Linked DNA regions of Homo sapiens. The protein of the gene in region 2 purifies or fractionates together with the protein of the main gene of each other region. This does not show direct contact. Each region holds a gene or a part of one and is shown on either strand. Other genes may lie near its edges.

Region 1 (10,201 bases), on a different chromosome or scaffold from region 2:
GAATAAACATTTCTGTTTCTGAGGCTGAGGAGGGGGATTGGGATATTAAATATCCCAATAGACTTATATTTTTTCTGCCAGAAAGAATGAGGAATGGCTATTGATAGGGAGCCAACAATGTGTGCTGCAGGGGCTCATTGGAGAAATTTGAGCAGGGGAGTCACAAGATTAAATTTGAGTATTAAGGCGTTCTGGTTATGGTGTAAAATGGGTTAGCAGGCTTTTTCTTTAAAGGACCAGGTGGGAAATATTTTAGACTATGTGGTCTCTGTCATATCTACTTAACCCTGCTGTTGTCTGCTGTTGTAGTGTGAAAGCCACCATGATTATATGTAAGCAAACAGGCATGACTGAGCTCCTATAAAACTTTATTTACAAAACCATAATGCAGATTGGATTTGGCCTGTGGCCTATAGTTTCCTGGGATTGATGGGAGATAATCATGCAAAGAAACCAGGAGACAAAGGAAGCTTTTGCAGTAGTCAGCTATAGTTTCCATGTTACACATCCTTGGAGTAGCATCAATGTATTATAAGGTTTTCACCCGTCCATGGTGAAATAAATAATGTTAGAAATCTCAGTTACTCATTTTACTATGTTGGCCTTCGTTATGCCTTTTTCACTTGTTTTGCTTAATTTTTTTTTCCTGTAAGAAATAACATTAATAGTTGGCAGTTTTCTTTTAAATAGAAGTCATTTTGTAAATGTTTATGTTCCCAGTGGCAGTGGGAATATAAAACAGAGGCAGAAGAGAGGTATAGTCAATATGATTTAGTGATAATTGAATGAGAAAGGCTTGGGGGACAGAGAGAAATCTCAGATGATGTACAGGTTTCCAGATTGTACACTAGTATTTAACCTGGACATGAGGAAGGAGTAGGAAATTTTCTGGTGAATACAGGAGAGCAAAGAGCAGCAGGTCAGCAGGAATGACTAATTTTTTTCTATGCATGTTTAATGGAATATTCGTGTAGGATATTTTGAGTAGGTCATTGGATAATCAGCATTTATAACTCACATCCTACTAGTTTGATTCTCAGTAATAAGACTTGTCAAAGATCCAAGAATCTGAAAGTCAGTAATAAATGTCCATGTGCATCATCGTCCGTGACAGAAAGTCAGCATCCACAGAACACAGAATTGGGACAGATGAACTTAATAGATAAAGATGAATATCGGAGTTGTTCCTCTTAGGGAATGATACTCTCCATGACCTGTGTGAGTCACAGCTGCCAGAAAAGAAAGAGCAAGGAGCATATGAAGGCAGCACAGCAAATTCGGTCCTAGAGTGCCCTGCTTGGCTTCATGTCATAGTTCTGACTTCTAAATAATCATTTTCTGCAAAATGTGCTTTGTGTTTTTCCCTCTTGCCGCCTGCAGCCAATCAGAATTTTTTAGCAGGACATAATGAAAAGAAGTAAGAGAAAGAGTGTTTTTTTGTATGGGATAGTATTTAACGTAAACTTGAGAGTGAGTACCAGGATTATACTTAGAATTTATGGACTGGATGGAAAGACTGGATAGAAATCTAAAGATTGCTGACTCAAACACAATGTGGTTTCTTTGATTTATTTTCACAGCTCTGAATTCACGACTGTTAATTGTATTCATATGCACTATAACTTTACAAAGCATCTTCCCAAACCAAATATTTACTGATTTAGTATAATTTGTATGACTTTATTATAGAACTGACTTTCCAAGTGTTCATGAGAATTGTTTAGTATTTGCTACATTGTATCATCTCAGCTGTGTCCACATGAGCTATCTGTCACCTTGTCTTAATGAATAATTGTTCACTAGGAATATTGGTTTTGGCATTGAAATGATCTATATCTAAATGCAGATAGGACCCGGGACCACTTTTGAACATTAATGTCCAAGCATCTTAAAATTACACATAAGGCTTTCATAATCTGACTTCTGCCCCACTCTCCATCTTTAGCCCTTTTCCCTGTGTGCACTGTCTCTGGCATTACTGAGCTGCTGGCAATGCCCTACTCACTCATCCTTCTATTGTAGGCAAATACTTTCACTCTTTCAGGCCTCGCTCCCGCTCTTGCTGCTGCATGGTATGCCGTCACCCTTTCCTGCCCTCTACCCCTTTTAATCTGGCTAGTCTCAATATTTAAGTCTCTGCTTGGGCATGTGTTCTAGAAAAGCCATCTCTGACAGGCTTTATTTTAATTCTTTTTAAACCCTAATGCCTAGCATGTATTTAGCAGGACTCAATAAAATATTTCTGAGTAAAACAAAGACTGTTTTTACAAAGATGATGTGCAAGACTCTCCCCTGCAGTCTTGGAGCAGAGGGGACAGACATGTGGAGGAATAATGTACAGTTTAGGTGGTCAAGATGCAGTAGAAAAATCAGTAAAGTACTAAGGCAGCCTCAAGGAAGGAGGTACCTGTTTATTTGGGGAAAGACATGCAAAATCAAGGAAGACTTCACATAGCATTGTTTCAAAAGATGAAAATAAGGCCAGGTGTGGTGGCTCACACCTGTAATCCCAGCACTTTCAGAGGGGATCACGAGGTCAGGAGATCGAGACCATCCTGTCCAATGGTGAAACCCCATCTCTACTAAAAATACAAAAATCAGCTGGGTGTGGTGGTGCTTGCCTGTAATCACAGTTACTCAGGAGACTGAAGCAGGAGAATCACTTGAACCAGGGAGGCGGAGGTTGCAGTGAGCTGATCATGCCACTGCATTCCAGCCTGGTGACAGAGGAAGACCCTGGTTCATAAAAAAAAAAAAAGAAAAAAGAAAAAAAGAAAATAAATTTGTCAGAATAGTGGAGGGAAACATTTTAGATATTAGGAAGACGTTGTACACTAATAAAGGTGTCAGCAGTGATTTTGGAAATCATTTATAAGGTACTATTAGGAAGTGGAGAACAGTACACTGTGTCACCTTATATGTTTCTACTGTATTTTAAAGCTGTGTTTCTGGTGGTTTTGTTCATGGATGTTGGGTGGATGAATTTGTGAGGGAATTTTTGACATGTTTGTTTGTCTTCAATCTGGTGACATCTGGTATCTCCCCAAGTGGGTTTTTGAAGTTTTTGAGAATTATTTCTTAAATGACAATTTCACAAAAGATGAAACACTCAATTTATGAAATAAAATGAAATGTCTCAAATCCGTTTTTAAAAGGCAATAGTTTTTAACTGTTCTAAGTGGTTGATTTTAACTGAATATATGGATTTTTCAACAGAACAAGACTTAAAGCTGACATCAGAGGAAGAGTCACAAAGGCTTAAAGGCAGTGAAAATGGCCAGCCAGAGGCATGGAAACTTTTAAATTTAAACTTTTGTTTAATGTTGTGTGTTTTTTGCCTTAATAATAGTAGATAGTCCAAATGAAATTACCTTTCAGACTAGGCTTTGAGAATCAGTAGATTGTTTTTTTAAGAATCTTTTGGCCAGGCAAGGTGGCTCACGCCTGTAATCCCAGCACTTTGAGAGGCTGAGGCAGGTGGATCACGAGGTCTGGAGATCGAGACCATCCTGGCTAACATGGTGAAACCCCGTCTCTAGTAAAAATACAAAAACTTAGCTGGGCGTGGTGGCGGGTGCCTGTAGTCCCAGCTACTCGGGAGGCTGAGGCAGGAGAATGGCATGAACCCAGGAGAGGGAGCTTGCAGTGAGCCGACATCCACCACTACACTCCAGCCTGGGTGACAGAGCAAGACTCCATCTGAAAAAAATATATATATATATTTTAATAGGTTCTTAAAATTTATTGTAATAAAATCAGCAACCTTCTTAACAGAAGAATCAATAGATTCTAATTTAATATTTGATATTTAACTTCAACATAACCCACTATAAAATTTAAAATACTCTTATTTTAAAATATTCTTATCTGCCTTCTTGATTAGCTTATAGCTAATCTCTCCTTTTGGAATAGAGGCAAAAACAAATTTCAGAACTTTGTTTGTTCTTTTATTTTTACAACACCCTAACATGATAAAGAAAGTAACATCAATGATTGAATCATATTATTAAGCAATAGGAATTATGAACAATGTAACACTGATTCCCTGAGCTGGATTCATGGTTAAAGAGTAATCATGGCCTGTGATTGAAAATCCACAGTTTTATATTGTCAGTCACTGATACCAAGGTTAAGGACATATCCTGCCTTGTGGTCTCTCGTTGACCTCAGTGTTTCTGTTCAGGGAGGGAACCAGGTCATAAAAGCAACCCAACTGCCTATTACAAGAACCATATCTTGCAGAATGGGACCTTTGGTGTTAGTGCACAAACACAATAACATTCTAATTTATTTCAGTTGCAGAAAATCAGTACAGATTAAAAAATTCTATCTGCTGTCATTAGTACACATTAGAATATATTAGAACTGGACTTACGCAGATAATCTGGATACATAACACTATCATATGACAGTATATAATTTCAATTAAAATGTGAGAATTTGCATTTCTTTCTGTTTGGTGTTGATTTCGGCTCCTAATAGTTTAAAGGGTGCCTACAATCCAGTTAGGAATCTTTTAAAAAAGCACTTCAGTGCACTGTAGGGGCTCACTAGTTAGGGTTTCATGAGGTAAACTCTTTTCAAGTGAGGAAGATTTTGGAACACTACAAATCATCTGCTGATTCATTTTTGGTAGATTTAACACATAACAAATTAAGTTTAGTCCAAACAAATAGTGAGAAAGTTAAGTTTGCTGGTTCATGTTTTTCTTCTCCCTTTGTCTAAGGTGAATTATTTTTCACATGTTAGAAGCCAGTGATGTGGCAGTAGCTAAACATAGATTAAAAAGTTAATTCTTAATTTTAATTATTATTTATTTAAACAGTTTAATTTTAATTACTTTCTAATTTTTATTGTCCATACTTGATTACTTCAGAATAAAATTATTTTAAAAACATGCACTCCAAAAGAGGAAATGTCACAGAAATACAACAAGCAAATTAACCTTCTGTTTTTACATCTGCAGAAAAGATCTCAAGAACCAGAAATAAATAAGGATGGTGATAGAGAGGTATACCTTTATATTCAAATGTTTGTGTTGAATTAGATTTTTACATTATGTTGTTTAACAAAGTGTAGTAAATGTAGGCATACATGATCCTATCATGTAAGTAGCATAAATCATCAGTGAAAAATTAAATAGTTAACTCAGAATTCTGTACATTGAATTTTGAAGAGGTGCAAACCCTAGAGCTATTCTTTCATTATTATGGAATAATCCCGAATGGTGCCATAAAATGCTAGGTAATGCCACTTTAGGAGCTTTAGACCAATTATTTTATCTTTCTTGGTTTTAGTCTGATTATCAGTAGATAATGTGCCTAAAGTAGATAATTTCTTATTCTCTGTATTTTCCAGCTAGAAAATTTTATGGCTATCGAAGAAATGAAGAAGCACGGAAGTACTCACGTCGGATTCCCAGAAAACCTGACTAATGGTGCCACTGCTGGCAATGGTGATGATGGATTAATTCCTCCAAGGAAGAGCAGAACACCTGAAAGCCAGCAATTTCCTGACACTGAGAATGAAGAGTATCACAGGTAAGCCTATGGCAACATTGAACAGGAGGTAACTTTGTGCTGTCAAACTAATCCTAATTTGAGCTAATATTCATGATGAACAAATTTTATACTTTTATTAGGATATTGAGCCTTGCCTGTTAATCAGAAAAATGAAAATCAGCAAACAATCAGTTACCGTTTTTTTTCCAGTCATTAATTTATTTGAAAAATAACCAGTATTGGCAAATGTGAGGGAAAAGGCATTTTCTTCTCTTTTCAGTGAACTTTTATTTTAGCTTCGGGTACGTGTGCAGGTTTATTATATAGGTAAACTGTATCATGGAGGCTTGGGGTACAGATTATTTCACCAGCCACATAATAAACAAAATACTCGAAAGGTAGTTTTTTGGTCGTCTCCCTCCTGCCATGCTCCTCCCTCAAGTAGGCCCCAGTGTATGTTATTCTCCTCTTTGTGTCCATGAGTTCTCATGTTTAGTTCCCACTAATGAGTAAGAATATGTGGCATTTGATTTTCTGTTCCTGCATGAGTTTTCTTAGGATAATGGCCTCCAGCTCCATCCGTGTTGCTGCAGGGGAAATGGTTTCATTGAAAAAGACATTTCATATACTGTTGGTAAATACATTTTGAACATTAATTGAGTAGCATATTCACACACACATATATAACAGAGTAAGCATATATAATACATGTAAAGGATATTTGTATAGATATGTTATATGTATACTTATGTATAAGGACATTTATTATAGTATTATTATGTAAAAAATTTGGAACTAGTCTAATTGCTTATCAATAGGAAATAGCTCAATTTCCATATCCCCAAAATAATGTATTATGCAACCATTTTTAAAAAATGAGGTTAGATGTAGGGTATACTGATTATTTCACAATTAAAATGTATTTAAAGCGTTTAGTTTGATGACACATCTTAAGAGTTCTTGTTAAAATTCTTGTAATATCTGCTGTGTTGCAAATGGAAGCTACATGCTACATTGACACTGTACCTTGTTAGCAACAAGATTGCTAGTTACTAAATTTTTGTTGTCAGTGCCTGAGTGCTGAAATATTGGACCCTCAATCTGAATATTGCCAAGGGATTGTACATGGGGATCTATATTTAATATAAACATTTCAGTATATTTGGTAAAACTTTTATTAAAATACATCAAAGAATCTTTGATCTACTAAACCAGGAGTTGGCCAGCTTTTTCTGCAAAGAGCTAGTTAGTAAATATTTTAGGCTTTGTGGACTACATATATTGATTTTCTTGAGACAGGGTCTCACTCTGTTTCCCAGGCTGGAGTGCAGTTGTGTGATCATGGCTCACTGCAGCCTCGACTTTCTGGGCTCTAGTGATCCTCTGACCTCAGTCTCTACTAGCTGAGACCACAGGTGTGCAACATCACACCCAGCTAACTGACACTATGGACTGTAAAGTGAATAAGCATGGCTGTGTTCCAAGATACTTGACTTACAAAAACGGGCAGTGGGCTGGATTTGGCCCACAGGTGCTTATTTGCTGACCCTTGTGCTAAAAGGAAGGTGCTGCTAATGCAGTGACTTTTATTTGTAAAAGTGCCCTGCATGTGTGACATTATCCTCCCTTTGAGAAAAGGATATATTTCAGTATTCACCTCACCGTATTTTTCCAGTGACTTCATATGATTTTGAAAACTACATTTATAAAATAAGATTATTTTCTGCATTTCTCCCACTTTATTCCTGTTAATAGAACTCAGTATTTTACTGTGATCAATTACTTTGTATATTTGATGAGTGTCAACTGTCCTAGAATTGGCTGATTTTTATCAAGCAAGAAATATTCTCCTTGAGAGTTTTAGTATTTCTTGGTCTTTATGTATAAGCATGAACAAAATGATAATCAGCTTATGTAATCTAGAAATGTTCAAAGGGCCTTTAAAAACCTTGGTCTGACATTTCTAAATGCCATATGTGTATAATTTTTATAACCTTTAGAATATATAATTGTTACATAAAATTTGAAAACTCCACCTGTTATGTAAAATTTGGAAGCTACTATTTCTTGTCTATCACTTTTCCATGACTGTGGATGAAAATTACATCATTCTCAGTCATGAGCGTTAAGTATGTTGTCCTTAAAGAACTGTCTACACTCATGAACTCAAATTTTCTTTCCATTCACTCTTGATCTCAATGCCGGTAAGTCTTCAATTTCAGCACTCCTCCAGAGTTGTTTTTCCTCAAGATTATCACTAATTTTTTTCTGTACTAAATCTAGGCATTTTTCTTACACCTCATTTAATCTGTCAGCAATATTTGAGCCAATGGAGGGCATCTCCTCCCTAATGGCGTCTTCACTTGGCTTTCAGGACCTCACTCCCTCAGGCTTTTCCTCCTGCCTTTCTAGTCCGTTTATCATGGTCTGTTTTGCTTGCTGCTCCTCATCTTTCTCCTTTTGGACATTGTTGTTTCTCATGGCTCAGTCCTCAATCTTCTTTCTCATGGTTTTTTTTTTTTTTTTTTTTTTTTTTTTAAGACAGAGTCTCGCTTTGTCCCCCAGGCTGGAGTTCAGTGGCATGATCTTGGCTCATTGCAACCTCTGCCTCATGAGTTCCAGCACTTCTCCTGCCTCAGCCTCCTGAGTAGCTGGGATTACAGGTGTGCGACACCACGCCTGGCTAATTTTTGTATTTTTAGTAGAGACAGGTTTCCCCATGTTGGCCAGGCTGGTCTCAAACTCCTGACATCAGGTGATCTGCCCGCCTTGGCCTCATGACATGTTGGGATTACAGGCGTGAGCCACCGTGCCTGGCCCCTCATGACTTTTTCTACTGTGTATATGCTAGTGATTTCCAAATGTATGTCTCCAACTTAGATCTCTTTCCTTAATTCCAGATCTCTATATCATCCCACCTACTTGACATCTCTATTTGATTAGCTGTTGGGTATCACACACTTGTCAGATCCAAAATTGGGCTACTGATGTCCTTCCTGAAATCTACACCTCATGTAGTCTTTCCTACTTTGGTTAACAGCAACTCTTCCAGTTGCTCTGCCAAAAACCTCAGTGTTATTCTTGACTGATCTTTCTCTCTGTCCTGACACTTCACATCTAATCTCTCAGTAAATCTTGTCAGGTCTATCTGAAGAATATATCCAGAGGCCAGTCTATCTTATACAACTGAGCCACCGTCATCTGCAGTTTAGATGAGTGTCATAGACTGGGAATTGATAGTCCTGGTTTTTAAAAGCTTCCCCTTTCATCAATTCTTATCTCAGTGGATGTATTTAAAACATAAGTCAAATGTTGTCATTCCTCTGCCCCAGCCGTTCTGATTGCCTCCCATTTCACTCTGAGTATGTGGCAGAGTTCCTCCTAATAACTGAAAGGCAGTAAACCATCTGGCATGTTACCTCTCCTGCTGAAACTTCTGTTTCTTATCTCTATTGCTGTGTTTCAGCCACACTGAACTTGTTGTTATTCCTTACCTATCCCTTAGTGCTTAAAGACTCCAGGCACACCTCTGCACTTAGCAGTTCCCTGTGTCTGGAATGCTTTTTCCCCAGATATTCTTCTAGCTTACTGTTTCCATTACTTCAGCTCTTTACTTAAAATCCCCTTTCTAAGAAGAAGAAAAAGGGTAAAAAGAAACCCATTAAGGAATAACCACTTCCTGAGGGAGAACCATGTACCAGCACAATTCCTAGCCCAGAGAAAATGAAGAAAATGAAAAAAAAGAGAGATAATGAGGACTAACAGAAAGGAATTAGGATTGTATCATCAGGACGCGTCAGGCTTGAGATTCGATTGGGAACATACCAGGGATGCTCTCTAACGTAATTGAGGGAAGTTTCAATGAAACAAAGTGATTTATCATCTCTAACTTCAAACCTATTTGTGTCTTGACATCAACTCTGTTAACATCATCATCTTTTAGAGTCTTTGATGTACAAATAAAAGTTTCTTTATATTAAAGAAAAATCCTCTTTCTCAGCAGGGACTTTTCTGGCCATCCCAACTTTCCCACCACCCTTCCCATCAAACACATAAAGATTTCATTTTCCTGCTTTGGTTTTTCTCCTCTAACGTACTGTGTATTTTGCCGTATCTGTCTGTTGTTATTGTGTGTTTATCTCACTCTCATGAATAGGGTTTTTATTGTTCATTACCATATCCTCACTTCCTAGAAAAAGGCCTAGCCTATCAGACGTAGCTACCTAATAAATAGGTATTAAATGAATGAATGGAGTTTATCCCGGGTATATTGTTTGATTGATTCTCACTTAAAAAATGTTTGACAAGGTTCATTTTAACAATTTTGCCTGGTAATTATATGTATTTTAAAAATTCTTTCGGCTTTTTATAATAAGCTACATTCTTTATATTAATATTTTTTCACTTAGGGAGAAAAGCCCAATATTGTGGTTATTCACTATTCTTTTACTGGTAATCATGATAATTGCAATTATGGTAAAATGAGTTAGAGAAATTACAAGCTTTACTGGTATTTTATTTATTTAGAGACAGAGTCTCGCTCTGTCACCCAGGCTGCAGTGCAGTGGTGTGACCTCGGCTCACTGCAACCTCTGCCTCCTGGGTTCAGGCGATTCTCCTACCTCAGCCCCCTGAGGAGCTGGGATTACAGGTGCGTGCCATGACACCCGGCTAATTTTTGTATTTTTAGTAGAGACGGG
Region 2 (7,248 bases):
CTTTCTTCCAGTTGATCGCATCGGCTCCTGAGGCTTCTGCATTCTTCACGTAGTTCTCAAGCCTTGGTTTTCAGCTCCATCAGCCCTTTTAAGGACTTCTCTGCATTCGTTATTCTAGGTATCCATTCGTCTAATCAACTCTGTGGATTTATTATAGTACTCAACTCCCTTGAGGCTTTTAGAGGAAAAGCAAACATGACTTTTCACTCAGGGTTCATGAAGATTTCATTAAGAACATAGGAGTTCTTCAAGCTTGAAAATAGCAAAGAGATTCTTTGAACATGATTAAATCAATTCAATTCAATGCTCATGTGACAGCTGCTGCATCAACACAGTTGATCATCACCACAGCTCCTGATTTTATTCCTACATTTCTGACCATTCCTTTTCAGTCTCTTTTATTATCTCCATAGTGATGATGTCAAGATTTGTAGTACCAGTTCAGACTTTGCTTCTGAATTTCAAGCCTAGATTTCCAATACTCCTCCCTCTTTTCACTTGGATGTTTAATAGGCATCTCGAAGGTATTAAGTCCAGAAATTAGCTCCTGAAATTCTACCCACCCAAATTCTGCTCTTTCTCAGTAGTTTAATTCTCCCAGTTATTTGGGTTCTCAAATTATTTTATCATCCTTATTTCTTCTCTTTCTCTCACACACATCCAATCTACCCACAAAATCTGTTGGTTCTACCCTCAAAACATATTTAGAATATAACCACTTTTACTCTACCCTTAGTCTAAACTATCATTATTTCTTTTTGTTTGGATTATTGCAGTGATGTCCTAACCAATCTCCCTGAAAAATTATCTGTGAAATTTATTTCTATACATCCAACAAGCACAATGAACTCTAGGTAGAATAAATTCAGTGAGGTCCACATCAAGAACATTGTAATCAAACTGTTGAATGTCAAAGACAGAGAATCTTGAAAGCAACAAGAAAGAATCAACTATCATGTACAAGGGAACCTTAGTAAGATGAACAGTTGGCTATTTATCAGGAACTATGGAAGCCAGAAAACAGTGGGCATATTTAAAGTGCTGAAAGAAAAGAACCTATCAACCAAGAATTCTGTATCTGGCAAAATTGCCCTTCAAAAGTGAGGAAGAAATTGAGATATTCCCAATAAACAAAAGCTGAGGGGTTCACTACAAGTAGACCTGCCCTGCAAGAAATGCTACAAGATGTCCTCAAGTTGAAATGAAAGGACACTAAATGGTAACTTGAAGCTGTATGAAGAAATAAAGGTCTACAGTAAAGGTAACTACATGGGCAAATATAAAAGCAAGTATTATTGTGTAGCATAATGGAGAATATATGTGGTCTCTCTGGTCTTTGTACCTGGCTCCTGGCACAGAGCTTCAAAAGCCCTTGGAATTTCCTGAGTGACAAGAGTATATTTTTTATGCTAATGAGGTGACTCTTTGTAGGTTCCTAGATAGCTTCAGAATGGGGCTGATCACCAGAAAGATCAATCACATGATTAGATGATGGCAACTTCTGGGAAGGGTATCTTTATGTCCTATATACGGGAATCCTCAAAGTCCAGGTGATGCTAATTCTGTTGGTCACTGGACCATATTTTGAGCAGCAAAGAAATAGCATAATAGCATTTGTTAAAACTGGTCAGACTGTAAGCATCACCTGAAGTGCTTATTAAAAATACCATCCAGATTACCTGACCCTACTCTACATCTGCCAAATCAGAATTAATCAACTTCTCAGGAGGCTTTTGTAATTCAATAAATTTGGGAAATGCTGAGGTAGGGCAGAGCTAAATGTGGCCCCTAAGAGATGAAGTGGTGAGTCACTGGGATAGCGCCCAAAGGGATGTGGACAGGAGCTGCTGGACATGCCCTTGGCTCTCACCTTCAAAGGGAAGTGGACTGTGTGAGTTCCCTCTCACGATTATCTCAGGTCAGTATTTGCCTTTGTAATTGATGGAGAACTTCTTAATTTCTCTCTCTAGTGCGTCTAGAGTGTTGACAGTTGTTTCCATGGACTTCAAATCAACCCAACCCTGTGAGCACAGACTTTCAGCACCAGAGTCAGATTTCCCAAAAATGCTATTCTTGAAGCGTAGAGCCAGACTCACAGATCCTGTAAAGAAAACAGATCTTTCAGCAAGTGAAACACCCAATCTTCCATTGCATGGGACTCACAGAGGTTCTGAGGGAGAGATGTGAATAGAAGGAGTGATCATCACTGTGGACTCTATTTCTTCCATCTGTGCGTGCAAGATTTATATCTGTATGTGTTTGTTTTAAAGTTTTATTGAGGTATAATTGATACACAATAATCTGTACCTATTTAATGTATACAATTTGATGAGTTTGGACATACTTAAATACCTGTGAAACCATCACCACAATCAAGGTAATAGACATAGCCATCACCTCCAAAAGTTTCTTTGTGTCCCTTTGTGGTTTGTTTCTGAGATAAGAACACTTAACATGTGGACTCTTGACACTCTCCTTGGATCTCTTAATTTGATTGCTGTTGCTGTCACCACATTGACTTCCTAGCCCTGCTGATCCTCCTTTATCACTAGCTCTAGAAAAAAAAACAAACCAAACACCACTAATTCATTTATTCAGTAATTCAACAAAAAAACCATTGAGCACTTAATATTTGCAGAATACATGGCTAGATGCAGAGGATTCAAAGAATTGAGTGAAGTCACATAAAGTGTTAAGAACAGTGTGTGATACAAACATGAAATATGTTAGCTGTTAGAATTTCAAACTCACTTCCATATCAATTATAATAAGGATTTCCATAAATAGCAGAATAGTATTTCTATTAGATGCTCACAGATGCTAATAAAACAGTAGAATGGTAAAAACCATGCATCCCCCAAGGCAAGAGAAGGTGAGCTATTTTGCCTCGGTGGCTCAATATTCCATCAATGGGTCCTGCTTTAAACTGCAAGTACCTGCCTTCCTTCTTTCAACAGACTGACTCCACGTTGCTTTAGGAAAGATTCACTGAAACAAAGGAATAAACCACCCAAGATATAGTGTTTTTAAAAACATTTTTTAATGAAGAAATTATTCCACTCCAAAATATAGACACACAATTAAATAGTTTAATCACTTCAAAATATAACATGTCCCCAGGAGGTTCCAACACACACACACACACACACACACAAAACAATACTTAACAGCAATACAAAAATCCATACAATAGTATTTTTTTTTTACAATACCAATGAATATTGTGAAATCTTTAGTGTCTCTGAATTGATTATTTCAAATGGTGTCAAATTGCAGTAGTCATAATTAAAAATGTCTTACAGTTAATTCGCCTCAAGATGCAACACTTCTGATTTTTTTTTCTCTTTTTGGTTCAAAAGTAAAAATGCCCTTTCTTCTAAGGACAGTGGAGTTCTCACTTGTGGCTCCTTGCGTGGAATCGAACCAAGGGGAATGCAGCAACCAAAGGTTGCTGGATTTACAAGATCTATCTACGGTTAACAGCCAAGAACTAATAAGGGTGGACAAAGATGATCAAAATAAAAGCAGACATCAGTGCTAAATTATGATGCAACAGTTTGGCTCATGCATATAAGAAAATACATAGTATATCACAACAAAGGCCACACACTCTTAATGCAATTCAGTTCACATTACTACTTACAAATGAACCTTCCCTGCCTTATAGTAGATCATTCAAGAACCCATTTTTCACAATCTCCAGCACAACTCCCTCTGACCAACCAAACTTACCCCAACTTCCGTCCTGACCAACCACAACTGTTTCCTGAATCCCATGCAGTAGATTTCACCTTCCTCCCCTCCTCCATTAATATGGCGCTGTGGAGGAGGGTTGGCTGTGTTAGACCAGTGCTTATTAACAGGCTATCAGCTCTGATGGAGATGGATGTGCAATTCATTGTGGAACAAGAAAGAAACAACCCCCGCAAGATGTAGTTGTATCTAATGGACAGGACAAGTGAAACTTGCTGGGTTTGCACTTAGAACAGGCCCCAAAAGTAAATCTGGAGAGCCAAGGAAAGAAACCCACCAAAAAACACAAAACCCCAAAATAACACACGCCATTTTGTCTCGCTTACAGGACAGGGGTGCTCGAGTCTGGTCTCAGTGCTGACGTGGAGCTAAGAGAGAGAAAAGGTGGCTGGTTAGTCAGAAATTGGTCATTGGCGGCAGTTTCCAGAGTCCTTGCAATGGCTTTATATGACGATATCAACAACCATGTGATGGAGTTGGTTGGCAATGAAATAGCTATGACAACGGGGAAGGTTATCAGCAGAACAGTTCAAATCTTAGACGAACATTTTGATGTAGAAACACAAAGAAACAACATATGCCAGCTCGGTCCAGTCAGTGGTGGAGTGCCACGTGCAGGATTTAAGTTCTGAGTTCAAGAACTACCTGGCTATGATTTTGAGCTGACAGCATTATAGGTAGCTGGGATGTAGTGGTTTTCAATACTGAGTATGAGGCACCAGTGGCCACCTGCTCCATCTAGAGAGGTATGGGTTCACAGAGGATGGGCAGTGGAAAAGAGATGAACATTAAGACACCCCAACAAAACCCGCAATAAAAATCAATCTGTGCAAAGAAATCTGAGAACTGTGCAGTTGTGCCACTTTGGTGTCAGCCTGTGCTCAGAGACATTTGTCAGGTGAGTTCTCTGGAGAGATATATGATTAAGTATGTCAAGGGATAGGATGGGCTTCTCACTAATGCCAATTGAGCACTTTATCCCCAAGGCAAGTGATTTGGTTTCAAAGGGCAGCCAAGGAGATGATGTCTGACCAAACGCAGACATGTGAACATCGTACAGCCGCCCTCTGCAGAGGGGGCATGAAGATGTCAGGACTTGGCTGGGCACCTACCAACTACGAACTTGGTGTGTGGGTTCAGAGAAGGTTTTTGCCAGCCCCAGAAGCAAAAGTGAATCACAGAACCTTTCTTGCTTATTCTGAATAAGGCCTTTTCAGAGACTTTATTATACGACTTCATTCTAAAGCAGTAGTTCTCAACCTTTAGCGAGCATCAGAATCACCTAGAGGGTTGACTAAAACAGACTTCTGGACCCAACCCCCAGAGCTTCTGATTCAGTAGGCCTGAGGTGGGGCTTACAAATTAGTATTTCGAAGACCTTCCTAAGTGTTGCAGATGCTGCTTGTCCGGGGAACACACTTTGAGAACTATTGTTCTAAAATGTTCTCTCCTTTCTTTTAAAGGAGAGACAGGAATTCCAGAGAAACTGCTAATTTAAGCATAATGTATTGAATAGGTCGCAGGCTTTTTTAAAAAAATCAAATCTTGAAGCAAGTAGAAGATTACTTTTTCTTTTTCCCCAGAATTCCCAAAGGAGGTCTTTAGGGCCCTCTAAAGAGGGTCCTTGGAAAAGACTATCCCAGTCTTTTATCCTCTTGTCTTTGATAGCTCTTTTGCACTTCAGCTTTTCACTGAGTGCAAAAATCCCAACTCAACTTAGAAGAGCCTGTCTCCTTTCACATGACCACAGAAGGCTACATGCAGAACACCAGGTGGCCAGCTAAGGCAATCAACATTCAGAAAAAAAGGAGAGCAAACGTTTGCAAGCGCACTTTAAGCCTGTACATTTAAAGCTGAAGGCCTCCAAACAACTTGATGGGGGAACTTGTGAACGAGCGGTGCTGTTAAAGACATGCTTCCTAAAGCCAAAACGAGAGGAACAAGACCATGGAAGAGCAGAGATAACTTTAGTCCGTTTGGGGATCTTATGGCACCTGTGGTTTATAAACAGCTTTAGTAACGAGTATTTCAAAACATAGTTCACAGTTTTTAAGAAGATCTGTGCTGATTTTAAAAACTAGATTCTATATAATTTGAATGCTGCCTTTTTTGAATATGATATCTATTTGGAAAAAAAAATATTTACACTAAATTCTATGGCTGATTAGAGTATCTTGAAAGAAAACAACCTCGAGTTGGAAAGAGGCCCCAAAGAATGGATTATTCCTGGTGTGTTTGGTTCAAGTCACTGCTCACAGAGACTTGGAGTCAACTACAGACCGTGCAGGCCAAGGACCCTTCTTGGCTTCCGGGCTCTGAGTTTGTACACTCAGGAACCAAATTCTTCAGGGTTATTGAATGATTGCAAGTGGTTGTTTTTTTCCAATTGCTGTGAAAAAAATGTACAGTGTATAATAAACTGTTTTGCTAAAATCTCAAAGAATTCAGAAATCAAACTTCTAGCTATAAACAGTATTAATATTGTCATTGTAAACTGAACAGGTTCAATATCATGTGCAAAGGTTTAAAATGCTTGTTAATACTGCCATTGTGTATAACAGCAGCATGGGTTTTCAGCCTGTGTTTGTTTGCTTTTTAACCAGGGATGAACCACGTTACAGAGGATGTAGCTGATAAGTTAACTTTGAACAGAAGTCTTTTTTTTTCCTTCTTGAAACACACACCTATGCACTACAAATCTGAGAACAAAAAGTTAGCTGCACTATAGTCATCAGGACACATCTTTAGGGGTGGGGGTCTGTCAGGAGCTGCTGGGTGTGGTGGTTCCTCTCTTCGGTGAGGCTGCTGCCAGGCTGCTGTCTTCCTCCTCTGTGTGGCCACAGGGCTCTCCATCATCACCAGTTTTCATGTTACTTTCATCATCTGTCTGACTATAGCTTGCCTGGGAATAAGGAATGTGTAATTTTTTTTAAAGATGCAAATTGTTTCTAAATTAGGGTTATGAAACTTAGGATCCCCCCTTTCCCCAATATAGAAGAAAGTGCGCGCGCACACACACACACACATGCACACACACACTCCTTTCCTACGACAATCAGGAATGAAAGTCCTAGGACACTGTGCTATTGCACCTTCTGGAAGAGAGGACAGGAAGTCCTCCATGTGGATCTCTTTCTTAGTGGGTACCAGAGGCATCTGGAGGGGAAAAGCAACACAAACAGAAATATTTGTGCTGTCTTTTGGACAAAGAGATAAAACCAGTGACCCATGATTAGGCTGCCACGTTGGTTTTTAAAAAATCTACTTTGGATGGTCCAATCCTCTAATTTCCACTTGGATGTGAGTGGCCAAGGACAGTGGTGTACCATGTGGCCACAGGATGTAACAGGGACAAATTGAATACCTAAATGGGCTAAAATTGAGTCTTGGAGGACCCTAAGCTGAGTGCCATTATGTATACCGTTTCTTCAAAAGTGGCTAGTTGAAAACCAATAAACCAGGTTTTAAACTATTCACTTTTTTTAATATTGTATG

What was found.
Region 1: the proteins of DTNA (region 2) and POTEI purify together in Homo sapiens (affinity purification with mass spectrometry; 3 studies listed by BioGRID and IntAct, with this or other methods). This does not show direct contact.

Annotation. Positions count from the first base shown.
Region 1 is NC_000002.12:130,469,717-130,479,917, reverse strand, and holds part of POTEI (POTE ankyrin domain family member I), read left to right. Parts: intron 1-3,216; coding exon 3,217-3,287; intron 3,288-4,966; coding exon 4,967-5,011; intron 5,012-5,358; coding exon 5,359-5,540; intron 5,541-10,201.
Region 2 is NC_000018.10:34,887,173-34,894,420, reverse strand, and holds the end of DTNA (dystrobrevin alpha), read right to left. Parts: intron 6,656-7,248; 3' UTR 4,122-6,655; coding exon of another isoform or gene 3,981-4,121; 3' UTR 2,577-3,980; downstream 1-2,576. UniProt on the Homo sapiens protein: May be involved in the formation and stability of synapses as well as being involved in the clustering of nicotinic acetylcholine receptors.